Linked DNA regions of Homo sapiens. The protein of the gene in region 1 interacts with the protein of each later gene in a pairwise test. Each region holds a gene or a part of one and is shown in the gene's direction. Other genes may lie near its edges.

Region 1 (8,605 bases):
GCATATGCCACTGTCATAGCATTAGTTACATTGTATTGAGGTTTGAGATTTATTTGCTTGGATCTCCCACTAATGATTGGCAGGGTCCAAGGGCAGGATTTCTGTCTTATTTGGACCAGATCCAACAGGATAGTTGGGTTAGTATAATTTGGAAGAGTGAGTGCATGAATGCATGACATTCCTGTGGACAGGGACAAGAGCACTGGGACAGTCAGATGCAGAACCAGAAAGAGGTCATGAAGAAAGATTCAGATATGGAAGCTGACCACAGAGTAAAATGATAATACCCAATACTTCCTATGTGCCAGGCACTATCTCAGTACTCTCTGCGTGATAACATCTCAGTCCTCATAAAGACCTCAGTATGCCTGCGATGCAAACAACTGAGTCCCGGAGAGGTTAAGTAACTTGCCCCAGTTCACAAGCCTAGCAGGTGATAGAGGGAGAGGGAAGACTTGGGCTTGTGCACTGTGGCTGGAGAGAAACTCAGTCTTACCCATGATAAGATCCTGCCTCCCACATGATATGGCTTCAAAGGCAGTGTTATGAGTCGAATTGTGTCCGCCAAAATTAATGTGGTAATATCCTAATCCCCAGTACCTCAGAATGCGACTGTATTTTGAGACAGGGTCTTTAAAGAAGTGATTCAGGGCTGGGCGTGGTGGCTCATGCCTGTAATCCCAGCACTTTGGGAGACCAAGGTGGGCAGATCACAAGGTCAAGAGATCGTGACCATCCTGGCCAACATGGTGAAACCCCGTCTCTACTAAAAATACAAAAATTATCTGTGTGTGGTGGTGCACACCTGTAGTCCCGGCTACTCGGGAGCCTGAGGCAGAAGAATCGCTTGAACCCGGAAGGTGGAGGTTGCAGTGAGCCAAGATTGTGCCACTGCACTCCAGCCTGGCGACAGAGCGAGACTCCATCTCAAAAAAAAAAAGAAAGAAAGAGAGAGAGAGAGAGAGACAGAAGAAAGAAAGAAAGAAAGAAAGAAAGAAAGAAAGAAAGAAAGAAAGAAAGAAAGAAAGAAAGTGATTCAGTTACAAAGAGGCCATTAGAGTTGGTCTTCATCTAATCTGACTGTTTAATTTACAAGAAAAGGAAATATGGACACACAAAGAGACCCAAGGATGCACACAGATAGAAGAAAGATACAGCAAGAAGGCAGCCGTCTGCAAGCCAAGGAGAGGCCTCCAAAGAAACCTATCCTGCTGACACCATGATCTTCTACCTCCAGCCTCCAGAACTGTGACGAAATCAACTTCTATTGTTGAAGCCATGCTGTCTGTGGTACTTTGTAATGGCAGGCCAAGCTGACTATCAGGCCGTTGGAGCTGGGGAGGACCAGGTGCCTGAAGGAAAGTGTCAGGATGAAAGTGGACGGAAGGCCAAAGCTTTCCAAGCCTAGGTTATTCGTAGAACCATAAATGGGTGACTTAGCCACAGTTCCCAGGAGGCGTGTCTATTCACGGGGGACTGGAGGGCAGTGCCCTGAGTCTAAGGTTCCCTTTGATTCTTAAATTTCCACAGCACATTTCCGGAAGCCAGCCTTTCACATTCCCATCTCATTTTACGCCCACCCACCCACCAGTTGTTGGGGGTCACAGTGGGTGGGTGGTCTGATGTCTGACTTGGACTCCAGATCTCGTCCGGGTATAAACTGCAGGCTGAGAATTCTTGGGAAGCCTCCAAGGCAGGACCACTATCTGTGCTCTTCCTTATCAAAGTGGAGTCATTTATATTTTAATGAGATTATTTCCCAACACAACAGTTTATCTTTCATTTCATTTATCCCTTTGCCATCTGGTCCCCTTATGTTTGCATGTAGGGCTAGTGGCTTTCTTTGTCTAAGTAGATTTGTCAATAGTTTATAAATTTTCTTCTCATGATCATAATATTTATTTTTCACATTAGACAGACTCTTCTGGAGTCTTGGAAGAAAGAGATTTCTTTTTTTTTAATTTTAATGTCATTCTTTAACCTGTAATTTTTGTTTCTGGGAAATGTGTTTTCAAAAAGTAATTAATTAATTAAAATGAATGAGCAAAAGTTTCCAGACCAATATATTTTCTGGTTCTATTTGCTACTGGATAACCCTAACAAATATTTTACTTAAGGGACTAAATCAAGCTCGCCTAATAGCAAATGGTACAGATGCAATGAAAGTGGCCTAGCTTCCCTCTAAACTGAAATCCAAATCTGGGCAAATTCTATGTTCTGGAGATATTTATTTTTATCTGTTTTCAGTCTCTTGCTGTAAAGTTCTTATCTTAAAGCTACTTAGCTCCTCTTTTTTTGGCCCCCTCCCAATTACTCTTGGCCTTCTTAATTACTAATCCATCTCTTTCATCAGCAAAGTTGATGGACTCTATTTACCATCCGATTATCTTAAGTTTTTTCCTCCAAGACAGGGCTTTGGCATTCCAGTCCTATTCTAATGGCTGATGGCACTACATACCTCTCAGGTGCCTGGTGGGAAGGCCAGCCATGCCCATTGGCCTTGCCTTCTCTTGACCCAAAAAGCTCCATTAGGCCAGAAAATAGCTCTGGCCTATTCCTCAACATATCCCCAGCACCAGCCCCTGCCTAGTACACACTGAGTGTTCAATAAATAAATGAATGAACTGCCTTGTTTTCTAACACACCAACACATGCAATAATATAAACAGAGACTGAAACATGCTTTATAGGTGAAATACAACAAAAGATTGATGTTCAGACCTTTCTGAGAAAAAGTGATTAAAAAATCAGCAATATCTTTTATTCATATGCTTCGTAGTTTCTAAGGGGCTTTGAATCTCCTGTGAGATTTATATCAACAACCCCATTTTAAGGACAAAGGAAGCCTCACAAGAATTTTGTGAGATTTAAATAAATCATGTATGTAAAATCCTTACCACAAAGACTGACATGTAGTAAGAACTTTGGAAACAGTTGATGGTCTATCCTTTTTCTCTATCGAGAGTTTAAAGAACTAGTACATGATGGATTCCGATCCAGAAGTCAGGTTTCATGTTTCCTAGCCTGTTACACTTCCTGCCATACCTCAGTATTCCCCCAACACTGTTCTCAGGCTCTGATAGGAATATCTTTAGGGCAGCAGTCAAGACACCCTAAGCAGACCAGTGACACTTTTCTGTCCCCATCTTAAAGGGGTGGAGGAGAGCATCGTACCCCCATGATTAAAGAGACTGACATTAAACAGCTGGACTATGGAGTGTGGGAACCATGTAAGTTTAGGGGCTAGATACCCTGCAGTGATCACTTGAAGGTTCTTGTGCTGGTTACCTGCCAGCAACTCTTATACCCCGCCCTCCCAAAAAATGGGCCAGGTGCAATGCCTCATGCCTATAGTCCCAGCACTTTGAGAGGCCGAGGCAGGAGGATCACTTGAGGCCAGGAGTTCGAGACCAGCCTAGGCAACATATTTTTCTCTACAAAAAAATTAAAACTCAGCTGGGCATGGTGGCACGCCTGTAGTCCCAGCTACTCAGGAGGCTGGGAGGATCACTTGAATCAGGGAGGTGGAGGCTGTAGTGAGCTGTGATTGTGCCACTGTACTCTAGCCTGGGCAACAGAGTAAGACCCTGTCTCAAACAAACAAGCAAAAAATGAAGTGAGGCTTTTAAAACCTGGGAACTGAAGCAGAAAGCCATGCATCACTAGAATACAGTGATACCGTTCAAGCTTCTCTTCCATATAATAAATGCATCACTGAGTTGCCATTAGACTGCTATGCCAATGATGAATGATAACACTGTGTCCCCTGTGGGCGAGGGGAACCTGAATCCATGCATCATTTTGAGATGTGGCTTGAGGTTTTGGTCTGGCATGCCCTTTCTCTGGATATTTGAGAAAGGCAGAAATCATTTAAATAGCATCTCATTTTCCAAAGCCCATCTTCTAAAAGTCATGCTGATTTCACCCTTTCTTCCCTGGCCTTTTCCTTAGTACCATCTTCCTGAGGATACAACTGGCCCACTCATCAGCCTTCTAGGTAAGTGGCACAGGCTCCAGCTACCTTAAGTGGACTACCTGGCTTCCCTGCTCACTGATAGGGTGTCCTGGGACCAGGCACTCGAACTCGGTAGGGTTTAGTTTCCTTGACGGTAAAATAGAAAAGTAAGCCTGTTTCACAGCACTTCCCTGAGGATCAAATGAGGCACAGTTTGAATTGTTCCCACACAGAGTAAATAAAGGCAGGTTCCCTCCTGGCTGCAAGATAAAAAATGGGCAGGGGAATCTCCCTTGAAGAACTGGCACGCTCCTTTCTTTCAGCTAATGCCCACCAATATGTCCATTGCTGTTTGGGGTGCAAGAAATTTTAGGCTCAGTAAGGACAATTCCTCCCAATGGTTTGGATAGGGCTGTCAGAACTAAATTCAAGTTGTTCGAAGTCTCCTTCCGCCCGCCCTGCCAACTTGCCTCCCTCTTCACCCTCCTAATAGGAGGTGAGCCCCTCCAATAGCGATCATTAACTCACCCTAAGGTTATCCCCTTGCTGCAACAACCCGTGAATTGCAGGTTCATTCAATGCTCTTTAAATTATTTTTAAAGGCTTTTTTTTTTTTAAGTAGCAAAAGAATGCATGACACCTATTGTAAACTGGCAAGTTGAGGGGGTGGGATGCCGCTCAGACGTGTACTGAGAAAGGTGATAATGAATTTGGCGTCAGCAATTCTTCAGAAACTATAAGAAAACACCCAGGTGTTCGAATTGGTCCCAAAAGGGAAACAAATCCTTCCCAGCTTTCACGATGCGCTGAGGTTGGTTTTCTCAGTGCTCCTCCCAGATCAGGAGGTGGGGAACCTCGTGGCAAGCCCTGGGGCTCGGGATTCCCGGACTGTGGGCCTGGGGGAGAGAGGCGGCTCTCGTGTGCACACTTACCCCGCCCCCACAACACACACGCGGTCACGCACCACAGACGGGCACACGCGCTCAGCACAGCCACAGTCGCGTGCAACCAGGAGTGCACACCGCACCCACATCACACCGCATGCACAGACGCACGGGTGTGAGACCACACACCTCGGCCACTCACGCTCACACGCCCCCCACGCGCTCGCACACGCGCTCGCACGCGCACTCCCCGCGCACCGCCGCGCGCACACGCGGGTCCCGCCGGACGGCGAGGGGCGGGGCGGGCGCGGGCGCAGGCGCGGGTGCCCAGCCGGGCGCGGTCGGGAGAGGGCGCGGCGCGGGGTTCGCGGCTGGCGCTTGAGTTGTTTGCCGGCTCCCGGGCCGCCAGACGCTCGGAGGGAGCCCGGCCGGCTCGGACTGGGCGGCCGGGAGGGAGGGCGCCCCGGGTCACGACGGCGCCCGCAAGCCGAGCGCGGCCGGGACGTGCACCATGGACCCAAAGGCGGGCGGCGGCGGCGAGGAGGACGACTGCGTGGACTCGGGCGCCGAGACCGGAGGGTGAGCCGCGCCGGGCCGGGCCGCGGGCGGGGGGCGCTCTCCGAGTTGCGCGGCGGCTCCTCCCCGGACGGGGACCCTCCTGATCCGTGCGACGGGACCGGGGCGCGGGGCTTCTCCTCCTGCCGGATCCCCCGCTCTCTCCTGGGCGGGCCGCGCTGCCCTGGGCAGGGCGGGCACCACCCGGGGGGAGGAAAGTGGAAGGACTCAAGGTTCAGTGCAAGCCCACCCATCCTGTGAGGCGATGCAGAGCGCCAGGCGGATGCAAAGACCCCTTGTCTGCATCGCTAGAGACAGGAGATGCTCTTGCACTTGTTTCCTCCTTCCTCGGGGACTTTCCTCCTGTAGCTCCGGAGCCCCCTGGAGTCCGGCCCTGGAGATCGGGAGAGGAAGAAAAGCAGGGTGGGACACCCGCACCTAAAAGTCTTTCCGAAGTCGGCTAGGAGGATGGCATTTCTCGTTATATGGCTTCATCGTGGGACTTTAATCTGTGCTGCCGAGTCCCCCTCCCCGACTCCTCCAGTCCCGCCGAACTTCCTCACCTCTAAGTGCACCTGTCCCAGCTGGACCCTTTGGCCTGTTGTACCGGCGGGATGGAGATGGTGTTGGGATTAGGATCTAGCCCTGCCTTTTTTTTTTTTTAATATTCTCTTCGCTTCAGCGGACTCAAACAATGGGCTCAAACCTTTGGAGACTAATTAGTTAGTCTCCAAACACTGTTTTCCTGAGCGGAAGAAAAGACAAAATGCCTTTTAGGAGATGAATGTCGTTATAAAGGCTTCCAGGCAGCCTCTGTCTCTAAAGGACTTTCCTGTGCAGAGTCAGCACCACATCCAGGCCGCGGGTACTGACCCAGGAGGAAAGGGTGTTTTTTCCTATCTGGAGTAATCCTGGGGGAGGGCGGGAGCTGCCTAGACTACAGAAAGCCTCATTCCTGGAAGGTCGGAGAGGTTTTAGACTAATCTCAGGATTTGGCAACCCTGTGAGGGCAGGTAGAGAATCCAGGCCCACGATCGACCCAGAGTTCTAACCCAACCCCGGCAAAGCTCCCCACAGGGCCCCTCCTGCCCCACCACTCCTAGCCCAAATGCGGGACTTTACTCCCTAGGGCATTCACCCAGCAATGGGCTTTCTCTGTTATCCAAACTTATTCATAGCTCTCTACAGCACCCAATTATAATCTGGTGGAGTAACCTGATGCTAAATGCCAAACTTCCTTTCTTCTTCCCACTCTTTGTGTAAGTGGCATTTATCAACTTTAACAAGATTATTGGCTTTTTTTTTCTGCCATTAGTTAGCTGGACCATGAATAGAAGAAACAAAGCAAAATTAACCAGCTTATTTGTAACTGCGTTAAATAAAGCATTCACTAGTCTATTCATTTTCAATTTGCAGAACTCACCTAAAACTGATATTTTTTTCAAGGGCTCTGTCTTAGAGAAGGGAGAGGAAGTCCTGGACCCAGGGGGTGACATCGCCCCAGGATCTGGACATCAGCATGACAGCGGCCAGGCCTCCTGGGAGGGGCTCCCCACTCCTGCTGACACCAGAGCTTCTGTTCTCAGCCTCTGTCACTAAAATGTGTAGTTGTAACAGGACAGAATTGTTTAAAGAATTCTTGGCCAGGTGCGGTAGCTCGCGCCTATAATCCCAGCACTTTGGGTGGCCGAGGTGGGCGGATCACCTGAGGTCGGGAGTTTGAGACCAGCCTGGCCAACATGGAGAAACCTCATCCCTACTAAAAAATATACAGAATTAGCCAGGTGTGGTGGCGCATGCCTGTAATCCCAGCTACTCGGGAGGCTGAGGCAGGAGAATCGCTTGAACCCGGGAGGCGGAGGTTGCCATGAGCTGAGATCACGCCATTGCACTCCAGCATGGGCAACAAGAGCAAAACTCCATCTCCAAAAAAAAAGGAATTCTTACTGTATCACTAGTATCCTTAAGCTAAAGGTAAAATAGCATGCATTTCAATGTATGCTAATTAGTTTTGTGTTTGCCATATATTCACAGAGCCCTTGAATTTCAGTTATCAAAAAGCTGTTCATCGTTTCCCTGCTTTTCCAGAGCTTGCCCCCACCCCTTACCCTATCCAGCTTTCACAGAGATTATGTAGAAAGCACATAGAAGACAACAAGTGTTTGCTATCGTTAGTATTTTTAAAATGCAAATCTGATCATGTCTCTCCCTTTCAAACTTTTATGGCTCTGTTATCTACAAATGCAAGGAATTTAACGTGGCCTATATGCCCTGACTCCTGTTATGGAGTCCCTTCTTCCCTCCCTGGCCTTGTTTCTCAGCAGGTCCTTCTTTGCGCCTTGTATTTTTCTGTTTCCTCGCCTTTGTCAAGCTGCCCTCTTTGCCAGCTCTGCCCTTCCCACCTGACTTGCCTGTCTGCCAGGTGAAACTCTACTCTTCTTTCAGGACTCAGCTCAAGTGACACATCTGCTAAGGCAGTGATCCTTAATTTGGGGTCCATGAATTCCTTCAAGTTGTATGCAAAATGATGTGCTTTGTGAATTTGTATGAGAAGAGAACTTTTTTTTTTTATCAGATTCTCAAAGTAGCTGGTGATCTATTCCAAACCAAGTTTGGGCAAGATATGAGACATTTCATTTTCAACACACTGTGTCTGAGGTGTTGCAAGACATCCAAGTAAAGATGATGAATCAGCAGTTGGGTATATCTGTCTGGAACTCAGAAGGGAGGTCTTCATGATGACATTGCATTTGGGTACTATTTACCTAAAAATGGCAATGGAAGCTCTGGGAGAGACTAAATCAACTGAAGGTAATAGCAAGCACTTTCTTAGCATTTAGTATGTGCCACCTACTGTTCTAAGCCTTTATGTATTTCATGGACTCCTCGAATCCTTCAACAACTCTGTGCAGCAGGTGCTTTTTAAGACCAGCCTTGAGAAACTATATTTAAACGCCCAGTCAATGAGAATGAGCTGATAAAGGAGCCTGAGAAAGAGTAGACTTGGAGTCAAAGAAAGAAGAATATGAATCATTGAAGCCAAGGGAGGTTTGAGTTTTTGAGAAAGGAAGGAGAGATCAACTATGCTACTGAGAAACTAATGAAGATGAGGAACGCTAAATGTCTTTTTTAAATGGAGATGATGAAGTGAAGGAAGAGTGGTATTTCACAGCGGGGTGGTGGAGGCAGGAGCCAGATTAGAGTGGCTCTA
Region 2 (7,719 bases), on another chromosome or scaffold:
TTTCCCACTAGCTTGTCCTTTTTCTACGTTTTCCTTACTTCCTTCCTTCTTTCTCCTTTATATCTTTTTCTCCTTCCCTATCTTCTTTTTGCCTCTCATCCTCAGAACCCTGAAGAAAAAGGAAGTAGTGGGAAAAAAGTTTTAAGTAAATTACTTTTATTATTTTCAGTTTAATGAATAACCTTTGAGTAATTGCTAAATTTTTGTACTTCCTATTATAAGCTCAGTTGCTTGAAATAAGAAAAGGTTTAAAGAAGAAGCTAGAATACTAGTTATATGAGTTCTTCTTTCAGAAGACCTATGTATGTCATTATTTTTCTGGATATACACACAGACACACACACACATATATATATATATCTCCTATATGAATTATCACATGTTGTCATATGCTAAATTTTATTACTATATTTATTTTCTAGTACTTTATCATGTGTATATAAAATTTTGAAGATGATGATTATATTTTTAAGTAAGTATACTGTATACATGCTTTTTACTAGTTTAGATAACATTTATATGCATATTTCCAATTTTTTAATCTTTAATATTTATTTTAATTACACTTAAGACATTTCAAAAACCTTTGTATTTATAGCACAGTGACATTGATGAGATGATCAATTATGAAATATTGAGAACACCACCATGTGGTTGTTTATTTTTAACTATAGATATTATAGCCGAAATTCAAATATCTAAGCATGTTAAATAAGAGCTATGGAACATAAAGAGTTTGATGAAATCTGATGCCTCTGGAAAGCTAGTGTCTATGTTTTGTGATACTTTAGTACTATTGTAAAGAAGTTATAGTAAAATGTGACGTAAAAATTATTGATCATCAATGCTAAAGAATTTATAAAAGATAACATACTATTTGTGAAGTTGATTAACAGATATTTGGTTATGACCACGAATTTTCTTTCTCTTTCTCTTTCTGTGCAAGGTGCCTGTGTCAGTGGCCATGATGACTCCCCAGGTGATCACCCCTCAGCAAATGCAGCAGATCCTTCAGCAACAAGTCCTGTCTCCTCAGCAGCTACAAGCCCTTCTCCAACAACAGCAGGCTGTCATGCTGCAGCAGGTAATGTGGGTTACCTGCTTTGGTGTTCTAGCATGACTTAGAAGGTGTGCACTTATTTTGAAAGTGCAGTGGGCATATTTGACAATTCAGTCTCCATTTGAAAGGACAACCTATTAGCGTGCTAGAACATAAATGTAACATTTTAATTATAGAACTCGTAAGAAAATCTAGATTGCTTATTTTTTTAAAAAAATTATTAAAGTCTAGAATAAGAGCAGAGAGAGGTGTAATTTGAAAATGGAATGAGCCAATATTTAAATATTCAAATGCTTAGGTACATTCAATTTGTTGACTTGCCAAAAAAATGCAAAAATACTTACCAGATAATAGTTGCTTTTAAAACTCCTAACACCTTAGCATTCCTTTTAGTTCACAAAAGTATGAAATTTGAATAGACCACTTTGTTAAAATGGAGAAAGTAACATCCCAGATTTTCCTTTTCATAGTATACTCATCGTTTAGAAAGAGAAGAATCTATTTATTATAATGAAATTAGGCAGCTGAGCCACAAATTTATGAAATTTATCTTTTTAAAATAACAAACATAGTGTTCCTAATAAATACCATATCGGAACCCTGAGTGTATATAGACTTTATATTATACACTTACTTATTAGAGAGAAAATAATGTGCTTTACCTGAAATTTTTTATATATAATTACTTTGCTAACTTCTGTGCTGATGACTACAGACCAATTACTTGTAAATCTGACATTGTTCTGAACATCTGATGGATTAAGTTTTTTCCAATAAGAATTGAGCAACCTGATTTTATGTAGCTAAATTTTTATTCTTACAACTGGTAGAGTATAGCCTAGTTTTTATGTGTCAGTAGGACTTCAGATGTAATAATTTAAAGTATTAATTTGGCTCTGACCCTTTAGAATACAGACTTTCTATACCCTTTTGTTTAGGATTTTTTGGATTCTGGATTGGAAAATTTCAGAGCTGCCTTGGAAAAAAATGTATGTAGAGCTGTCTCTTTGAATCCAATGTATATTTTTTGTTGTTTTTATGGGATGAATCTTAATGGATACTCTGCCATATGCCAGTCTAGAAGAGTTTAGGAGATTTATAATACGTGAAACTTTTGCCTTTATTTATTAAAGTCAAAATGGTTTATTCAGCAACAACTACAAGAGTTTTACAAGAAACAGCAAGAGCAGTTACATCTTCAGCTTTTGCAGCAGCAGCAGCAACAGCAGCAGCAGCAACAACAGCAGCAACAACAGCAGCAGCAACAACAACAACAACAGCAGCAACAACAGCAGCAGCAGCAGCAACAGCAGCAGCAGCAGCAACAGCATCCTGGAAAGCAAGCGAAAGAGGTAGGATCCGGTTATCTCATTGATACATAACAGTTTGCAGTTAAGAAGGGGCTTTGAGCGGCAAGAATAGTCTTAGATCTTCCTATAACAAGGCTCTTGCTGTCAAAGTTGCAGTATTATATATTTTTACTGAGCTTAGTAACAGTGATAGGCTCTCAGGCTCTCCTTTTTTGTAGCATGGGACTTGAGAGTTACAATCTAATGCTGCTGTCGTCTAATGTTCACTAATGAATCACAGTACAAAGAGCAAGCTGTGTGGTGGACAAAGTACTGATTATCTTGTATTCATGGAGAATCTAAGTTGGTGAGGGAACCTTATTTTTCTCAGTGGTGCAGCTCAGAGAACATGCATGCAAATTTGGCCTATTGTTGGGGATAGGGAGACTAAGGGAGAAACTGGTTGAGCACAGATTTCAAAGTCACAGGCCCCTGATTAATGAACTGCTACTGTAGGTTGAGAGTGGCGAGTAGAAAGTTACAGTTTGATATGCTCATAAATCAAACTGACAAGCGGGCTTCTCAGGCCTAGCTTGCACTTGTCAGCAAACTGCATCAAATATAAACATAATACAAACAAAACATGTTGAAGTAGTTAAATTGATCAGCAGGTATCAGAGCCGTTGTCTTCAAGCTGCCCATTATGCAAACGTACAGGAAACAGTTTTGACCTCCTGAGGCTTTGTTTCTGTTTGGATTTGTGAATAGAATTTCAGACAGCCATCAACTACAGAATAGAAATTGCTCCCTTATTTCTCCCGAGGCTTTGGGCAATCCACATGACTTGCTCCATTATGCAGTCTGTTTTCCAGTGAGCGCATCAGAAGTTTCTCTTTTCCCCAAACTAAAAAGGAAAGGTCTTCCACAGCAGCTTGTCTTTCTCTGAAGTGTGACTGCCATCTCATACCCTCTGGAGTCCAAAGACCTCTGGTTTGTCTTGTAATGCCTCACAAAATTGGAAGTTATACTTTTTCTTATAATAAGGGCACTTTTTTTTAATTTTGCCTTGAACGTAATTCTGCCTTTAATATATTCCAACAAGAGAGGAGAAGAGAGAGAGAGCTAACAGGCCTATCCTATGAAGGCTACATCCCAGTTTACTAATAGATCACCAGAGACCACATTCATGGACCTCTGCAGATCAAACTTATTCAATTGGAAAAAAAAAAAAAGTGTGTCGTAGAAGTTGACTATTTCTGTAAAGTAGTGTTCTTTTAATCTAGAGAAATGTATTATTATCTACAATAAGTAGATTTTAAAAAGCTGAACCTTTATTACATACTATCTCTAGACCTTGCTCCATACTTTTTTGATGCAAGTTCCTTGGTTCTCTAACACGATTTAATAATTGAAAGAAAGGCAACTGAAAATCTAGAACTTACTCACATTCTGCCCCTGAACTTTGACTATGGGATGACCAAAAAACCCACTCAGGCAATGAAAGGAGTGTGCATTTCCCTGTAAGAGAGCTGTTTGTACAGACCATGTTCTCTGCTGTTTACTGGTTTGGGTTTTCTGATACCAGCAGCAGCAGCAGCAGCAGCAGCAACAGCAATTGGCAGCCCAGCAGCTTGTCTTCCAGCAGCAGCTTCTCCAGATGCAACAACTCCAGCAGCAGCAGCATCTGCTCAGCCTTCAGCGTCAGGGACTCATCTCCATTCCACCTGGCCAGGCAGCACTTCCTGTCCAATCGCTGCCTCAAGGTACATACAAAATGTTGTGCACTCTTCATTTCAAATCTTGTACTTTCTACCATTTCATGGCCTTTCTGCCTTATACCTTGAGAAATTTTGTTTTTATGACTTTCAAATTTATTATTAAAACGTGATTGTTAACATGGTGGCATGACCTATTTTCTAGAGGCTCAGAAATTTTACCATATACTGCTTTCAAGTGTGAAGTAAAACTTTCAAGTTTTTGTTAGATATTAAATGTGTATTTATTAGTCTTATGGGCACAAAATGATTTATAAGGGCAACACAATTCAAGCACTATTGAATATACAGGAGGATCTGCAGGGAATTGGATTACCGGGAAGGCTGACAGCAGTCCATTTAACTAAGTGAGCTGATAGGAGTTTGGTGGACAACTGATAAAAGAAAGATAAAAGTTCCTAATCTTCACACTGAAATCACCACATGTTAAAGAGAGGCTTCATGAATTTCTATAGAGCACATTCCAAGTTAAGCTTTGTAGAACCCCATCCTATGTCACAGGACATATCCATTCTTTTTTCTCTCAAATAACATTGCCTATGCATGTATTGTAAACTATAGTTTTAAAAAATCTGTCAACTGTATTCTTATTTTTCTGTAAGAAAAATTTGGAGGTACTCTGATAATACAATTGTGTGTCATATTCATAACCCTTCACTTTTGGGAAATGGAAAGTTTTAAATTATAAAAGACAAATAATGGTAAACAAATGACTGTGTGCTAAAATTCTCAATTCAGGTAAGTTATATATCATTACACTTCATAAAGGGATATTCTAACTTGCATTTGGATTTTGTTGGGACAAACATTAATCCAAATGTACATTAATTCAAATTAATTATATTTGTCACAGAGGAGTTCATATTGTAGTAGCATTGGCTGCACATTTTGCTGATTCTAAAGGACATACTAAAGAAAATCAGGAGTATCGTGGTAATGTTCTCTCTTTTTATTTATCAAATTAATGTCTCTTTGGCTTTTTTCCCCCTGGTTTTCCTCTCTCACTTGACTTCAAATCTTCTAATTCACCTGATTGAAGCACTCCTAGGAAATCAAAAAAGATAAAGTTTAAATAGCAAAAGAAAAACAAGGCAATAAGCCTGTTTTTCTGAGTTATTCTAAAGAATATTGGAATAAATATTCTAAAGAAAATTGGAATAAATCATAGCGTCATTATATCAATGAATGTTCTATTCACAATTATTCTTCTTTAGAAAAATAAATACAATTTAAAGACATGAAAAAGTAAAAAAGAAAAGAGTTTATAAAATTATTTCAGTGTAAACATGGATTTCTTCAATAGAAACTATACTAAAACAGAAAAAATATTGTTTTTGTTTTCAGTCAAGTTCAAATGAAATCTGTATTTAGGATATAATTATATGAGAATTTCCTCAACAGAAAAGCATGATCTACCACAATCTTATTTTATTAATTCAAGTAAACATTTTAAGAAAGTTTAAAATATGTGCTAATAGAAACACAGTGTAACTTGTTTAAAACATATTGTGAAACCACATTCTTTCAAAACAAGCAAAAAACATCTCTCTGAACAATGAAATTTATAATGATATAATCATTCTAATAGTTTTCAAATAGAAATTACCTGAATTCAAATTAAAATTTATTTTCATAGAATCCTTGTTTCTCTCTTTTCTTCTGTTTTTATCCTTGATAAGATATATGAGAGATAAAATGAGAAAATGGCGAACATTTAGGGAAAGGAAAGTAAATCTGAAAACATCTGTCTTTGAGCAGAAAATTTATATTTTAAAAAGGAAAAAAGATGAAATCACTCAACTATGTTTTCATTAATATAGGTTAAAAAAATCCATCTGAATAATTGTAGGGCCACAAATGTAGTTGGTTCACCGATCAAAGTTTGTGTTGTTGCCATGTAAGCCACACAAACCGGCATCATTGTCTTGTTTTTTACGATTTAGATGATTAAGTGTGAAAAATATCATTGTGGAGGCTCATTGTGTGTTGAATACACCAGCTACAGTAAAGGAACCTAGCGTTACGGTACTATGCTGGAATCCCAAAACTAGAGTGGGGAAAAAGTAAAGAAATATTTGTTGTACAGTGTAAGCCCTGAATCATTTCTTCCTTAGTTAGAGGTTAAGGTAAAAGTATTTTGAATATTTTTATTATCAGTTTCCAGTTCACTTTTTACCAGGTTTTTGATTGGTTGATTAGCCTTGAAAAATAGCCATATAAAAACCAAGTAGGATTAATGTGCAATGATGGATGATGTTCTCATTGTGTCTTTAAAACTGTATCTTTTCTTTTTTTTTTGAGGAGTCTCACTCTGTCACCCACACTAGAGTGCAGTGACGCTAACTTAGTTCACTGCAACCTCCGCCTTCCCGGGTTCAAGCAATTCTCCTCCCTCAGCTTTCCGAGTAGCTGCAATTACAGGTGCCCACCACCACGCCTGGCTAATTTTCATATTATTAGTAGAGACAGGGTTTCACCATGTTGACCAGGCTGGTCTCTAACCCCTGACCTCAAGTGATCCGCCTGCCTCGGCCTCCCAAAGTGCTAGGATTACAGGCATTAGCCACTGTGCTCGACCTAAAACTATGTCATATTTTATTTGTCCCTATAATTTAACACAACTTCTTCATGCTACTTTTAGAGTTACAGCTTCTTAAATTATATTAAAATATATGTATATAACAATGAGAAATAATAAAATTATAAGAATTTTGGTAGAATAGCAGATTTATCTACATTCCTCTCTAAAGTTTTATATTTATCATCTTAGTGTAAATTATTTTAAATATTAATCATTTAAGGTCATCATTAATATTACTATAATATTGGATTTTAGTTAGGCAAGTAAACTTCCATCTCCTAAGTATATGTTTGGTTTGTATACAGACAGATGATAGATATATACATAAGTATAGGTATATAGGTATATACATACATATGTCAAATAGAAAGGATGGATTTATAGTTCCATCTTGAATAATATACTGATTATAAATCTATGTAATATATGAATAACATAGTTTATATATTATCTAGTAATGAAATTTAGTGAAACATTTTAATGAACCAGGATAATTGTCTATTGGTTAGGAAAGATGAAGTTAACTTTAAACATTGATATGTTTGTGACATCCGATAAACGTTTGTGTACTCTAATCCACAATATATTCACACATTTACTATGACTATATGGATAGGAATACATGTGGTGATGATTTTCTGTCACTCCAAGTTTTTACATATTTTTTAATTTATAAAAGTTATTTAGAAGACAAGATTTTCCTTTCCAATTTGAGAGACCAAACAGAGAATGCTAGATTCTAGCCTGGATTCTTCTGAATTAACACATTATAGAACTAGAGATTCTCAGAATAAGAGTGGTTGAATAATAATTAAAAATGAAATATTTGAAATAAAATATAATGTTTTTAGGCTAAGTTAGAATTGTGCCGAAGATAGTCTTTGGGCGCAATATTCAGCCAAAATTAGCTGTTTGGCTTTGGCTTCATTCTATGCTTATGGAAGTCTAAGTAGCCAAATGCCTACTTCTGGCATCCTGGATTTACTGCTTAATCAATGATCTTGTGATTGCATA
Region 3 (7,719 bases), on another chromosome or scaffold:
GCATGATCTCGGCTCATCGCATCCTCCACCTCCTGAGTTCAAGCAATTCTCTTGCCTCAGCCTCCTGAGTAGCTGGGACTACAGGCGTGCACCACCACACCCGGCTAATTTTGTGTTTTTAGTAGAGACGGGGTTTCCCCATGTTGGTCATGGCTGGTCTCGAACTCCCAACCTCGGGTGATCCGCCTGCCTCGGCCTCCCAAAGTGCTGGGATTACAGGCATAAGCCACTGCACCCGGCCTGATTTTTGTATTTTTAGTAGAGACGGGGTTTCACCATGTTGGCCAGGCTGGTCTCAAACTCCTGACCTCCGGTGATGTGCCTGCCTCACCCTCCCAAAGTGCTGAGATTACAGGTATGAGCCACCGCGCCCACCTATATCTGATGTTTTATAGACACTGAGATTATGATGTCCCTTGACTTCTGCCCCCAGCCCTGACACCTATTTTGTCACTCTTAAAGCACCCTGTTTGTTGTGGTGCCCATCTGAGCCAAGCATGTGAGGGGATTGGTTGCTTTGTTATACCACGTTTTTCTGGAGTGATCTACCACCTTTGGTCACCTGGTTGGTTTCTGTATCCCTGTCACAGTATCTTCTTTTTGATGCTCCAGAAGACTGCGAACCCTATCCTGTACAGGACCAAATGTGTCAGGAAAGCTCTTGCCCCGCTCCCCCTTTTTCCCAGCTGTTTGGGTGTGTGTCAGATACCTTTGCTTACCTTGTCCTGTTACGTTCCAGCACCAGCCCCACTACCCCAAGCATCCCCTTCTCACTTGATGACAAGTCTTCCTTCAGCTGCTCAGACCAGATCCCTAGGCCACTGTTGACTCAGTTTGTCCAGAACTGACCACTTCCATGCCTCCCCTTCAAATACCTGGTTGAACCTGGTGCCACATTGGGGCACTAGGGCTGCCTAAGGGTGGGGTGAGGGGAGTCTTATTGTCACCCTGGTGGCCAAGGCTTTCTTAATTGGGAGGGTGTTTGGGGAAGCAGCTTGGCCTGATGCCTGTATCCCCCACATGACTTGCGGACAGTCTGGTACTTGTGTGAGGGCCTCAGGTATAGAACACACAGAGCCTTGGTGAGCTGGTATCCTTGTGTATGGCAGGACCATGGGCCGGGACCAGGGTGCAGCAAGTGCCTTGCACCTGGTGTTCAGAGAGCCCAGTACTAGCTGGGCAGGCCCAGGAACTGTGTGTTCAGGGCCTGGACAGGCTCCTGAACCATAGGGTCAGAGTTCATGGGGGAGGCAAGGCAGACCAAGGCTGCAACAGTAGCAGCTCCTTGCACCTGACCTCAGTGTGCCCCTCAGTGACTCTGAATGAGGCCCAGGGATCCCCTGAGGGCCCCCTAGGAAGTTACGGTCTCAAGGCCATGCCCCTCACTTGCCCCCTCCTCTTCCTCAGCCCCATAGGCTCCTTCAATTTCCGTGATCCTCGGAGTCCCCAGGAGACCAGGTGATGGCAGCAGCCAGACTCCTGCCAGTGCCGGCAGGACCCCAGGTAAGCTGTCCCCAGTGCTTATGCAGTGCCCCCAGCCCGAGCCCTGTGGTTCCTTCCGTGCCCCGTAGAGCTCCTAAGAGCAGCCAGAGCGTCACCACATGCCCTGAACTCCGCGGCCCCTTCCCATCACCCACCTCAGCTCACAGAGCCCCCCACTGCCAACTGCTCATGTCACATGTCACATGCACCCACTCCCCATCACAGACATCAGGATTTGGTTTTACCTGCAGCAGCCCCTGTCGTTCCAGGCCAAGCTGACCTTCGAGGATGTGGCTGTGCTCCTCTCCCAGGATGAATGGGACCGCCTGTGCCCTGCTCAGAGGGGTCTCTACAGAAATGTGATGATGGAAACCTATGGGAATGTAGTCTCATTGGGTAAGCCACCTTAGCAGGCCTCGTCTATGTATCTGCGTATTGGACTGGGGTGGGGGCTTCTCAGGGTACGGGGCCTGGGACAGGCTGGTCCTGGAGGTTTGCTCTCATCACCTCTCTGGGTGCTCAGCTCCAGCAGAAGATCAGTCCTGTCCATTTTCATGTCCCCACAAGTGGCTTGGGCAGGGGGAGGGGGCTCTGTAAATGTTGTGTAAACAAAGACTTCCCTCCCCACGAGCAGGACTTCCAGGATCCAAGCCTGACATAATCTCCCAGCTGGAGCGAGGGGAAGATCCCTGGGTCCTGGACAGGAAGGGGGCTAAGAAGAGCCAGGGCCTGTGGAGTGACTACTCAGGTGAGTGAGGAGAGCTGGCCCCTCCCTCACTGAGGGCTAAACAGGTCCTGAGCAAAGCTGTGGACCTAGTTCATACTGTGCCGCTCACTGGAGTGGCTTCCACCTGGAGTAAAACCTTATCTGGCCTTATCTGGCAAAGGAGTCTATAGACTGGGGGTTGCTGAATCAGGTGGCAGCCCATGGCTGGAAGTGAGCATAGCAGTGAATTTCAACAAGCTGATGTGCAGAGCCATGTAGAGGAAGTTAGGGCATGGCTGCAGTGATTCTGTCCCTGACCAGAGGGACTGGTTAGCCAGATTTGGTCCTAATAGGACATTCAGGTTTTGAGAGTTACCTGATGATTTAGAAAATAACAAAGCATCCTAAATGTGGAAAGGAAGTGTCTCAACCTGACACTTAAGGTGAAGTGCTGAAAGCACACTGTTTCATCTCAGAACAAGACAAAGAAGCCCGCCATCCCCATGTCCATATAATGTTGTACTGGGTATCCCATGTACAAAATAAGGCAAAACCGGCCAGGCGTGGTGGCTCAAGCCTGTAATACCAGCACTTTGGGAGACTGAGGCGGGTGGATCACGAGGTCAGGAGATCAAGACCATCCTGGCTAACACGGTGAAACCCTGTCTCTACTAAAAATACAAAAAATTAGCCGGGCATGGTGGCATGCACCTGTAGTCCCAGCTACTCGGGAGGCTGAGGCCTGTAGTCCCAGCTACTCCCAGATTCATGGCGTGAACCCGGGAGGCAGAGGTTGCAGTGAGCTGAGATCGCTCCACTGCACTCCAGCCTGGGGGACAGAGCATGAGACTCTGTCTCAAAAAAATAAAAATAAAAATAAGGCAAAACCAAAGCTATAAGAATTAGAAAGAAAAAAGCATTGTTTGCAGTTTATGTGATTGTCAACCTGGAAAATGATTGATTAAAATTCACAAGGGAAATTACCAGTTTTGCTGGATACAATTTTTTTTTTTTTTTTTTTTTTTTTGAGACAGTCTTGCTCTGTCGCCCAGGCTGGAATGCAGTGGCATGAGTCTCGGGTCACTGCAAGCTCCGCCGTCTGGGTTCAAGCAATTCTTACGCCTCAGCTTCTCGAATAGCTGGGATTACAGGTCCATGCCCCTATACCCAGCTAATTTTTGTATTTTTAGTAGAGACAGGATTTCACCATGTTGGCCAGGCTAGTCTCGAACTCCTGACCTGAAGTGATCCACCTGCCTCAGCCTCCCAAAGTGCTGGTATTACAGGCATGAGCCACTGCACCTGGCCAGAAATGTTTTATTTATATTTGTCAGCAACCAGCAAAGGTGTAATATTTTAAAAGATAACATTTATAATAGCATCAGGAATATAAAGCATCCAAGAATTAATCTAACAAAAGATGTACAAGACCTTTAGATGGAGAAAATTATAAAAAGAAAGATGGTGCATAGATCCAACCCTGAAGTTCATGTTTGCGGTTGCTTAAGGCAAAGAACCTCTGACTTCAGTAAGGTGACGTCTGAGTCTTAGGAAAACCTCAGTCAGCCTGTCCTGCCATAATGTGCCCCACTTGGGGAGAGTAGGGACAGTTTGGGCAACACCTCCATTGGCTGATCAGCTTCAGCATTTCAGATGTGGTGGTTTTCCCCTTGAAAGCTCCTCCTTATTTCTAAAGTAGCTTTATGTGGATAGGGCACCAGGTATTACAGTCTACCTCTTACTGGCCTGCAAAATCAGATATCCTCAGAGGAACAAGGTACATGCCAGCCTTAGAGGAATTTAATTTTCCAGTGACTATACAAGAAGACACATCATCATGTCTTGGAAATCTTGCATAGAACTTCTGCTTACTGACTGCAGCTGTAGGAGACAAGAAAACACAGGAGGGCATTTTGCTGCCACTGCCAAACCAGTCCTGGGCTCCCTTGTGTCCAGCTATGTACTCGCCTGATGGAGAGCTTAAACTGCCTTTGAGCGCCCTTTGATTTGACACCACAGAGACTGTGAAATTCTCTGGGAGCATGGCTGGTTGGAGATGAGAAGTTTTTTCATGGAAGCACCTGGTCCCCTCACCTCTAACACAGGCCACAGAGGACGATGGGACTGAGTTTTAGATTACTGATGTGCATAGAAACAGAAGCCACCTGCCACAACCTGGATCACTGCCACTAGCATCAGAGCAAGCGAGGAGTAGATATGCCTTTGTCTTGTCCTGGCAGTTCCTCAGGATGGATAAGTGTGTGCACCTGCCCAGCCCTGACCCTGCTGTTTGTAACTCAGTAAATTACATGTTGTAATAGCAACGAAAGGATTTTCCACTCTTTTTTTTTTTTTTTTTTTTTTTTTTTTGAGAGACGGAGTTTCACTCTGTCCCCCAGGCTGGAGTGCAGTAGTGTGATCTCGGCTCACTGCAACTTCTTGTCTCCGGGGTTCAAGCGATTCTCCTGCCTCAGCTTCCCTAGTAGTGGGGACTACAGGCATGCACCACCATGTCCAGCTAATTTTTGTATTTTTTAGTAGAGACGGGGTTTCACTATATGTTGGCCAGGCTGGTCTCAAACTTCTGACCTCAAGTGATCCACTCACCTTGGCCTCCCAAAGTGCTGGGATTACAGACGTGAGCCACCATGCCCGGCCAGGATTTTCCACTCTTGAAGGGAGTATTTTGTTGTCACTTCAACTCGCTGTTTTTTTTCCAGACAACCTCAAATATGACCACACTACAGCCTGTACACAACAAGACAGTTTATCTTGTCCATGGGGTAAGTGTATGCCTGATCTTTTTAATTCAGTACAATCTCTGAAGGTGTTAACACTAATGTTTTACAAGAATGTAGAGGCGACTCGGTGCTATGAAGCGTGTTAAACAACTCACACAATTGCTACAAAACACCAGGGAGGGGCTTTTTGTGTTTTTAATTTTTAAAACATTTTTCCTTTTCTTGTGAGCCATAGTAGGCCTAGAGAGATTACTGGGTTTTTATAATTAAACATTTATTTCGGTGAAATCATTTTGTTTCCTTTTATTTGTTCCGTCATGCTTAAAACATACTTCCCTACTTTATACTTAACAACCAAAACCATTATTCTAAAAGCAAGTGACTCTTGGCTGAAGTCCAGCTTCTGCACAGTATGGATGCAAGGTGCAGGCAAGTTTGGCCTTCACAGCAACTTGATTCTGTCTCACAAGCAGTCATATGATGCTTTCGTGCCATGGATGATTGAGCGAGTAGTCTCTTATGCAGTTAGTTTAGTGTGTGTGTGTGTTTTCTTTTTTTCAGGCTGGAGTGCAGTGTAGAGACAGAGTCTTGCTGTGTTGCCCAAGCTGGTCTCAAACTCCTGGGCTCAAGCAATCCTCCTGCCTCAGCCTCCCAACATGCTGGGATTACCGGCATGAGCCACTGTGCCTGGCCTGTGTTTTTATTATTAAAGACATCTTGTCTATCTTGTTACCCTGGCATCAGGTCAGAAGCCGCCCATTCAGGAAACTTTTTTTTTTTTTTTTTAGACAGGCTCTCACTCTGTTGCCCAGGCTGGAGTGCAGTGGCATAATCACGGCTCACCAGTCTCAACCTCCTGGACTCAAGCAATCCTCCCACAACAGCTTCCCGAGAGTAGCTATAACCACAGGTGTACACCACCATGCCCAGCTAATTTTTGTAGAGACGGGGTTTCACCATGTTGCGCAAGCTGGTCTCAAACTCCTGGCCTCAAGTGATCCTCCCACCTTGCCCTCCCGAAGTGCTGGGATTACAGACATGAGCCACCACACCGGGTGAAACTTCAGACAATAGAAGTAATACTTTTCAGTGTAAATGAGTAACTATTTCTTTAGCCTATAGGCTTTTATTCCATGAAGATGAGGCTTATACATTAAAAAAAGAAAGAACTAAAACTTCTATCAGTTTAAAAAACACATAGCCAGCTTAGGCAAGATACTGAGACCCCACACTACAAAATAAAATTAAAAATTAGCCAGACATGATGGTGCATTCCTGTAATCCCAGCCACATGGAGGCTGAGACAGGAGGATTCCTTGAGCCCAGGAGGTTGAGGTTGCAGTAAGCCATGATCACACCACTGCACTCCAGCCTGGGTGATAGAGTGAGACCCTGTCTCAAAAAAAAACCCACATAGAGTGACTTTCTAAAATGAGATATGTTAAAAATTGTATTAAACTGGGCCGGGGGTGGTGGCTCATGCCTGTAATCTCAGCACTTTGGGAGGCCGAGGCAGATGGACCACCTGAGGTCAGGAGTTTGAAACCAAGCTGGCCAACATGGTGAAACCCCATCTCTACTAAAAATACAAAAAATTATCTGGGCATGGTGGCACATGCCTGTAATCCCAGCTACTTGGGAGGCTGAGGCAGGAGAATCGCTTGAACCTGGGAGGCAGAGGTTGCGGTGAGCTGAGATCGTGCCATTGCACTCCAGCCTGGGCAACAAGAACGAAACTCTGTCTCAAAAAAATTGTATTAAACTGAAGACAGTGAATTTAAATTTTTTTATTAAAAAAACTGTTAAATTCTCACTGTTTCAATTTGTCAATACACTTAATAAATTCCTCTGAATAGAATAAAAAGACGCAGAATTACCCAAAAAGAAAAGTAGGCACAAATTTCTGCATAGATTAGGAAAACCAAAGGGCCAATAAATAAGAAAACTGCTCAGCCTCATTATTCATCAGTAAAGTGGAAATCAAAACCACTGTGACATGATGTTACACCTTCAGAATGGAAAAAATGGAAAGATCTGACAATATAACATGTGGGTGAGGATGCAGGGCAGCTAATAGGGATGTAAATTCACATAGCCACTTTGGAAAAGTTTGGCATTATCCAATGAAATTGAAAACATGATCACATTCTGAGAGAATGGAGGTAAAAAAAATGAAAAAAAAAATCGAAAACATGAATTCCTATGTTCACCACTTCCCACTCTTGCATATGTATACAGCAAGGACATTTGTGTGTAAGCACCAGGAAACATAGGAGAATCTTCACAGAAGCATGCTTCATGATTTAAAAAAACATTTGAAAAGAATTCAGGACCGGGCGCCGTGGCTCCTGCCTGTAATCCCAGCACTTTGGGAGGCCGAGGTGGGTAGATCACGAAGTCAGGAGTTTGAGGCCATCCTGGCCAACATGGTGAAACCCTGTCTCTACTGAAGATACAAAAAAATTAGCCAGCCATGGTGGCATGTGCCTGTAATCCCAGCCACTGGGGAGGCTGAGGCAGGAGAATCACTTCAACCCGGGAGGCAGAGGTTGCAGTGAGCCGAGCTCGTCCCATTGCACTCCAGCCTGGGCGACAGGGTAAGACTCCGTCTCTAAAAAAAGAATTATGTTCATAAACAGAATAGACATAAATAAACTATGGTATTTTAACTTAATGGAATATACTGCAGTGAAAATGATTAACTGCTGTACAACAACATGATGGATCTCAAAAACATAATGCTGACGGGAAAACGAGTTCCAGAAGACTGTGCTCCATGAAACTATAGAA
Region 4 (7,719 bases), on another chromosome or scaffold:
TGCTATAGCTTCATTTGGTGGGGACCTTTATTTACATGTGGAGGATACAAGGAAATATAAGTCATGACTCTTTCCCTGAGAGTCCAATCTATTTAATGGAAGACAAAACCTTGTCTCACATATATACACAGAAACAAAGCTAAACACTTCACAGATTGAGAAAATGTGATAAATTCCAGATGATTGTTTAGATAATGTATGTTCTTGGAAATTGAGAGAAAGAAGTCACTGTGAGTTGAGAGAGCCAAAGTATGTTTTATAATGGATGGATAGGATTTAGGTAGAGGGTACTCAAGAGGAGTGGAGGATAACGTGAATAGAGGGTGGAGACATGACTGGCTATGACATGTTTGGGGAAACAAGGAAGATAAGGTTGGAAGGAAATATTAGCGTTAGATTGTGGAGGATTTGATTGGTAGGCTAAGGATTTTGGATTGCCTTTACACTGTTGTGGCTATTAAATATTTATAAATAAGACCGTGCTAGGATGAATGAAGAAGATGAATCTGGTGTGTGGAAGATGGGTTAGCATGGGAAAAGATTGGAGAGACAGTGAGATTGGACAGTTTTTTAAAATTGTTATTATTGTAATAGTCCAGAAATGATTGAAGCCCAAAATTGGGGCATGAGAATGAGAAAAGAAGAATTAATGGAACTTTATTGGCAGGGAAAAGATGGGGAACCAAAGAGAGAGGCAATAGTCAGATGACTCTAAAGAGGTTGAGCCTGGATTATAGGGAGAATGGTAAAAATAGCAAAGTCAGGTTTGGAAATTGCTTGTGAAGAATAGGCCTACAGATAAATTCAATTTTAGATTCGTTGTGTTTGAGGGGATAGTGGAGCAATCATGAGAAAATGACCTGTAGACTGTTGGAGATACAGAACTGAGCTCATAATTACAGATAATGATTTAGAAGTCATTTGCACAAAGGTGCAAGTTGATATAATGGTAAAGGGAGAAACAATGGAGGGAAAAATGAGGGTGAAAGATGAAGGTTGAACAAAGAGGAAGAGTGGAGGAGGTAAGCCATCAAGGCCTCCAGAGTTAGGACAGCCAGGTATCATGGAGCCCAACACTTCTAAAACAACATTTTGTTAAAGAGAATAGTCAACAGACAGATTTGGTTGTTTTTTCCCCTTCAAATCTTATAATCTTGTCCTCTTTTTCTGTTTAGTTCCACAGCTGTTTATTGATAGCTGTTACTGAAATTTTATTACCCCGTCAATCTGAACTTGGTAAAGACTGAATTTTCCTTTTTTTTTTTCTGAGATGGAATCTCACTCTGTTGCCCAGGCTGGAGTGCAGTGGCGCGATCTTGGCTCACTGCAACCTCCGACTCCTGGGTTCGAGTGATTCTCCTGCCTCAGCCCCCACGAGTAGTTGGGATTACACGCGTGCACTACCACGCCTGGCTAATTTTTGTAGTTTTAGTAGAGATGGGGTTTCACCATGTTGGCCAGGCTGGTCTTGTACTCCTTACCCCAAGGAATCCGCCTGCCTTGGCCTCCCGAAGTACTGGGATTACAGGCGTGAGCCACCGTGCCTGGCCCAAGACTGAATTTCCTTTAGAGACAAAAAATCCTTTTTCTGGGTTTGTAGTATCTAGCATGAATTTTCTTCGCATGATGTTTTATGTTTAACATTGAGCATTCGTTCGTTCATTCATTCATTGTGTCATTCAGGGTGACCTATCAGGTGACTTCAGCTTTTTCAGTGAGTCTGTTCTTGTTCTTCCCTATCTGGACTTTGGACCTCTCATGTATTATAGGAACAAAACTCCTTTTACATTGGTTGCCTTTTTCTGTTATTTTGACTTTTGTTGATTTGTGTAACTGATACTTACTTATTAGTGTGTATTATGTGCCACGTGCAGTCCTTTAGTTCTAGAGTTGTTTTTGTAATCCCAAAAATAAGGTTTTCAAATTGTTTCTTCTCTACCTCCTTTACTAGATTCATGCTTAGAAATGGAAACTTCCAAATCTTTTGGTTTCAGAAATTTGCTGGTGTATGTCCTTTTAAACTACCTTACCTACTAAACAGCTTTTTTGTTGAGACACTAATGATGAATAGCATCCGTAATCTGAAATTTGAAGTGCTCAAAATCTGAAACTTTTTGAGTGCTGACATGACGCCATAAGTGGAAAATCCACCTGACCTTGTGAGATGGGTTGCAGTCAAAATGCAGTCAGAACTTTGTTTCATGCACAAAATTATTAAAATATTGCAAAAAATAACCTTCAGGTTGTTGTGTATAAGGTATGTATGAGACGTAAATGAATTTCTTATTTAGACTTGGTCCCCATCCCCAGGGTATCTTATGTATATGCAAATATTTTAAAATCTGAAAAAGTCTGCAGTCTGAAACACTTCTAGTTCCAAGCATTTTAAACAAGGGATACTCAACCTGCAGTAGTTTAGAATAATGTAGCTGGAAGAACTCTGATAAGTGGCTATCCAATCTTTTCTCGAACACCTGTAATTTTTTTCAAGAACTAAGTAAGTTCAATCTTCATATCATGTATAAATGCTAAAATAGTCTGCAAATACTAAGATACATTATGATAACCATTCACTTGTTTCCTAGAGCATTCAAATTAGTCAACTTTGGTTTTCTGTAGGTCAGATTCTTTCCAGTGTCCTAATGGTTGTCTTTCTTACTGTCCATGTTACAGTTTATAAGGATTATCGGGAGCTATTTCTCTTTTCCGGACTTCCTTATCTTCTAATTATTTTGTCTAGGGCCTGTAATAATTTCTCAGTGATTTTGAGTACCTTTGAAAACAGAATAAGGGATGGAGTTTAGTTAAGTCTATTTAATCTTTGCAGAGGAAAAAATGCTTATGATTTGTAAATTAAATAGGAAAAACAAGGCCGGGTGCAGTGGCTCGCTCCTGGAGGGCTGAGGCCAGAGAATTGCTTGAGCCTAGGACGGGGAGGTTGCAGTGAGCCGAGATTGTGCCACTGCACTCCAGCCTGGACGACACAGTGAGAACTTGTCTCAAAAAAAAGGAAAAACAAAAATGGTTGGGAGGGTTATAGATACATTTGTTTTGAAGTTTGACATACTTTTCATGAAAATATCTTGCTTGTAGCATATTTATTGGCACATCGCTTCATGATGCCTGTTAAGAACATGACCTTTCCACTTCTCTTCTGGCTGGTGGAGGTGTAGCAACGGGTGAGCGGAGGAGACAGAAGGGAACCAGTATTAGTCAAATAGTGCCTGTTGAGTTCTAACACTGTGCTGTTTGTCACTACTATTTCTTATTAGGGAGTTTTTCAGAATGTGGAAGATAAATGTAAATGAAATTTCTGGTGTTAGTCTTTGAGTTTTTCTTCCTTTAAATTATCTTCCTGGGCTCTCTTGACCTAGTGCTTTCCCATCTTTTCATTCTTCTTTTTTTCTTTTCCTCAATCTTTGGCCTATCATACTTATCTTTGTCTTCACTCTCTTGAAGAATTCATCCATTCTTACAGCTTCAATTATTATTATCTCTATGTACATGATACCCAAATCTTTATTTTTAGTCTTTTGTTTCAAACCTTAAATATCTGACTGCCTTGTAAGCATTTCTACTTGGATGTCATGTTAGTCTCAAATCCCTCATATTCCAAAACAAGCTTCCTCCCATAAACTTATCTGTTTTGTCATTAATTCCACTATTGTCCCTGTCGCTAAACTGAAATTTTTGTTGTGAACTTTTTTGACAGTGTTAGTCCACACATTGGGTTATTACAGCAGATTTTGGGTAGCATTTTCGAATCTGGATTATTGCTGTCTAATCCCCTGTATGCCTTGCCAGTTGAATTGATCTGTTTTGGGGGTATATTACTCTTGGAATGAAAAGACCTGAGGTCATTAAATCTTTGAGCCTTAAAGTTGTATCTCTGCCAGTGTTCCTAGTTTGTGAGTTAATAGGTGTTATTAGTATCAATTGCATATCTGGTTAGTTTGGACCAGACTTTTTTGGATGTTAGTATGTTGCAGGAACTTCTTTTAAAAAAACAAGTTACTCTCCTAATTCATTTTTATTCATTCAGCAAATCTTTGTATAGGGCCTAAACTTGGATTGAAATCTAGGCTCTGACATGTATTTGCTGAAATATTTTAGGGAGTTATTTTAACCTCTCAATGCTGTTTCATCTTCAGAAAAATAAGAGGGGATAAAAGTACTAGATTGTTGTAAGAATTGAATAATATAGTCAAAGCAACTATCATAGCATTTGGTATTTAGTAAGCATTTGTAATATTGTCATATTTATAATATTTCTGTTATATACTAGTCAGTGTGCTTAGTCTAGAAGTTGATATTTATTGTCGTCTCTAAGTACAGAGTAATTTATCTGGCACCTCAAGCCGCTCATAAATTCATAATCTAGCTGTGCGTTATTGACGTCTAAGCCAATTGTAACTGAAAATTGAGACATTTATTAATAGATTCAATAAATGGGGAAGATCTTTTAGAGACTGTTTATTTGTTTAGTTGTGATTTATAATATGGTATATACTTTGTGCCAAGGGTTTAGTTGGATATAAAAGGCAATTGGGAACTAATTTATGGAGATTGAGTTGTTATCTTGTTCTCTTTCTGTGTGTATCTTTTATACTTTCAGTGTGTGTTCTGTAAATAGGCCCTCTTGCACTACAGGCACCCTGTGGGTGTGTAGAGACGTGGCTCAGAGTAACGGCTGAGATATGAATTGGTTAATTCATTAATCTTTTGAGTCAGAAATGTTTTTTTTCCGCCCAGTCCGAAGTGCCGTGGCGCTATCTTGGCTTACTGCAAGCTCCACCTCCTGGGTTCACGCCATTCTCCTGCCTCAGCCTCCTGAGTAGCTGGGACTACAGGCGCCCGCCACCGCACCCGGCTAATTTTTTGTATTTTTAGTAGAGACAGGGTTTCACCGTGTTAGCCAGGATGGTCTCGATCTCCTGGCCTCGTGATCCGCCCGCCTCAGCCTCCCACAGTGCTGGGATTACAGGCATGAGCGCCGCACCCTGCCCAGAAATGTTTTTAATCCAGAAGAAGGAACTACATATAAAATTTTATGTTGAATAAAGAGTAAATTCTCAGTTTTAGATTAGACTTTGCATAACTTTACACCAGTTTTGCTTCACGATTATAAGTTTTGGTGTTATGGATATATGGTGAAAACTACAGATTCTATTACGATAATTGATAGAAAAACCCACTTATCAGGAAATATTATATATAGAGTTCTATTGCTGAAGATAATCCAATAGCTCTACTTCTCCATTCCTCATCCCCACTAAAAAGGGGGTATATCCATTTAGTTTAAGTCCACAGTATAGCTGTTGGATACGACACACATGTGTTCAAGAAGATGAACAGGTAGTACTGCAATTCACAATGGAAAGTATTCTTAAAAATATGCCATTAGTGTGGTGTGAAAAGAACACTGGACTGAAAATTCAGAGCATAGTCTTGTTTTGCTATTAAATCTCTGTGTAATGAAGTACATCATTTTTCTCATCTAGGCTTCAGTTTCCCTATTTGTAGAACAAAGAGTTGGACCAGATAGTTGCTGATGTCTCTTGTGTCTCTGAAAATTCTATGATAGGCCTGGCATGGTGGTCTGTAATCCCAGCACTTTTGGAGGCCAAGGTGCAAGTATCCCTTGAGCCCAGGAGTTTGAGACCGGCCTGGGCAACAGAGAGGGACCTCGGCTCTACAAAAAAAATAAAAATATTACCTGGGTGTAGTCTCAGCTACTTGGGAGGTTGAGGTAGGAAGATCGCTTGAGCCCAGGAGATTGAGGCTGCAGTGAGCCATGTTGGTGCCACGGCACTCTAGCCTGGTTGTCAAAGTGAGACTCTGTCTCAAAAAAAAAAAATAATAAAATAAAATTTATTAAACAAAATCTATGAGACTTTGTTTATTACACTTCAATTAAAACTTCAAAAAATTGTCTTTGATTTATTATTTAAGAAATAAAACTTAAACAGTTAAATGATGTTGGGGTAGAAATGTAAGACTGTCAACCATCTTTAGTAAGTGCTTTTTTTGGAACTAGTTCCTAAATTAATTTCAATAGTTATATTTGCCATTATTTTTTGAATTTGTGACTTACGTTCATAATTGTAGGGGTTTGTACTTTCTGAACATAGGAAGTGTAATTTTTTATTTGTATATCTATTAAAATGTAAAGATATGATTTTCTTCTCTAGTATACTTGCCCTCTCTGTTTGGGATTATGAAATATAGAGTGTATTTTTATTACAGTTCCTAAACAATTAATAGGAAGGTAGATGTTCAAATTAACGTCCAAAGTCTGATATCTCAGGGAGGTGAGAGTTTATCTTATACTTGTGTTATATTAAGGGTAGGCCAACCTGTGCCCCTCTTAATTGATCCATACTTCTGATACCAGATTTTTGGCAAGAAATTGAAAATTTTCTCAGATTGTTGTCTTGAACTACTTTTTTTTTTTTTGAGACAGGGTCTGGCCCTGTCACCCAGGCTGAAGTGTGGTGGCATGATCTCAGCTCACTGAAGCCTCCACTTCCCGAGCTGAAGCCATTCTTCTGCCTCAGCCTCTTGAGTAACTGGGACTACAGGCAAGCGCCACCATGCCTGGCTAATTTTTGTATTTTTTTTGGTAGAGATGGGGTTTTGCCATGTTGCCCAGGCTGGTCTCAAGTGAGCCATTGGCCTCAGCTTCCCAAAGTGTAAGGATTACAGGCGTGAGCCACAGCACCCAGCCCTCAAACTAATTTTGAAACAGTGGACTGCAATTAACTTTCCTTTTTCTCTTTTCTGTTATTCATTCATTCATTTGACAAATGTTTATTTGGTGTGTACTGTGTGCTAGGAATTCTGCTATGCAATGGAACACCATGGTGAGTAAAAACAAACATGTCCCACTTTCATGGAATTTATAGTGTCAGGAAAAGGATTAATTAAATGTCTATCACACTAAGATAGGAGTGGGGTATGGTGAAGGGCAGGTAAGAGATATGATCATGACTTTCCTTTAAGGTTTGGTTTACTTGTAGTAAAGCAATTAAGTGTATAGTTTTCAGATATGAGGCTGTAGATTGTATCAGATTCACTTGAGGCACTTGTTAAAAATGGAATCTGGGATCTTGCGTAGACAAACAAAATCACAATTTTTTGGGATGATTCTTAGGATTTGCATGAGATGTGGATTCTTAGACACACTCAAGTTTGAAAACTGTAGTTACAGTGGAAAGAATGTGAATTTTCATTCTGTTTGGTAATTTTATGATAAAAATTTCAAATATACGCAGAAGTAGGGAAAATAGGATAGTGAACTCCTGTTACTCAGATTTTGCAGTTTTCAAAATGTCATCACATTTGATTTCATTAATCACCCTTTTTCTTACCAAAATATTTTAAAGTAAATTCCATATATTGTCATTTCATCCTTACATACTTCAATAAGCATCTTTGAAAAAAAAAAAGGACATTTTCTTACATAATCATAATGGCCATTATCATGCCTAGCAAAATTAAAAGTGCTTTGGTATCATTAATTCCCAGTTTATATTCATATTTCTGATTGTCTAAAACAGTGTCTATTTTACAGTTGCTTTATTAGAATCTGGATCCAAAGTCCAAATGTTGCTTTTCTTTGGTTAGGTCCTTTAAGAGTCTTTTAAGTCTCTTAATATAGAGAAATCTCATTCCCCCAACTTCTCCAACTCCCCTTCCCCTGCATGTTGAAGGAACTAG

Evidence for each region.
Region 2: the proteins of FAM124A (region 1) and FOXP2 interact in binary tests that used the Homo sapiens proteins (3 or more experiments, as listed by UniProt).
Region 3: the proteins of FAM124A (region 1) and ZNF250 interact in binary tests that used the Homo sapiens proteins (3 or more experiments, as listed by UniProt).
Region 4: the proteins of FAM124A (region 1) and ROCK1 interact in binary tests that used the Homo sapiens proteins (3 or more experiments, as listed by UniProt).

The regions. Positions count from the first base shown.
Region 1 is NC_000013.11:51,217,152-51,225,756, forward strand, and holds the start of FAM124A (protein FAM124A), read left to right. Parts: upstream 1-5,246; 5' UTR 5,247-5,350; coding exon 5,351-5,418; intron 5,419-8,605.
Region 2 is NC_000007.14:114,627,594-114,635,312, forward strand, and holds part of FOXP2 (forkhead box protein P2), read left to right. Parts: intron 1-946; coding exon 947-1,084; intron 1,085-1,998; coding exon of another isoform or gene 1,999-2,049; intron 2,050-2,211; coding exon 2,212-2,412; intron 2,413-3,934; coding exon 3,935-4,112; intron 4,113-7,719. UniProt on the Homo sapiens protein: Transcriptional repressor that may play a role in the specification and differentiation of lung epithelium. May also play a role in developing neural, gastrointestinal and cardiovascular tissues.
Region 3 is NC_000008.11:144,884,092-144,891,810, reverse strand, and holds part of ZNF250 (zinc finger protein 250), read left to right. Parts: intron 1-1,407; 5' UTR 1,408-1,461; coding exon 1,462-1,503; intron 1,504-1,736; coding exon of another isoform or gene 1,737-1,751; coding exon 1,752-1,878; intron 1,879-2,116; coding exon 2,117-2,230; intron 2,231-4,908; coding exon 4,909-4,971; intron 4,972-7,719. UniProt on the Homo sapiens protein: May be involved in transcriptional regulation.
Region 4 is NC_000018.10:21,101,603-21,109,321, reverse strand, and holds part of ROCK1 (rho-associated protein kinase 1), read left to right. Parts: intron 1-7,719. UniProt on the Homo sapiens protein: Protein kinase which is a key regulator of the actin cytoskeleton and cell polarity.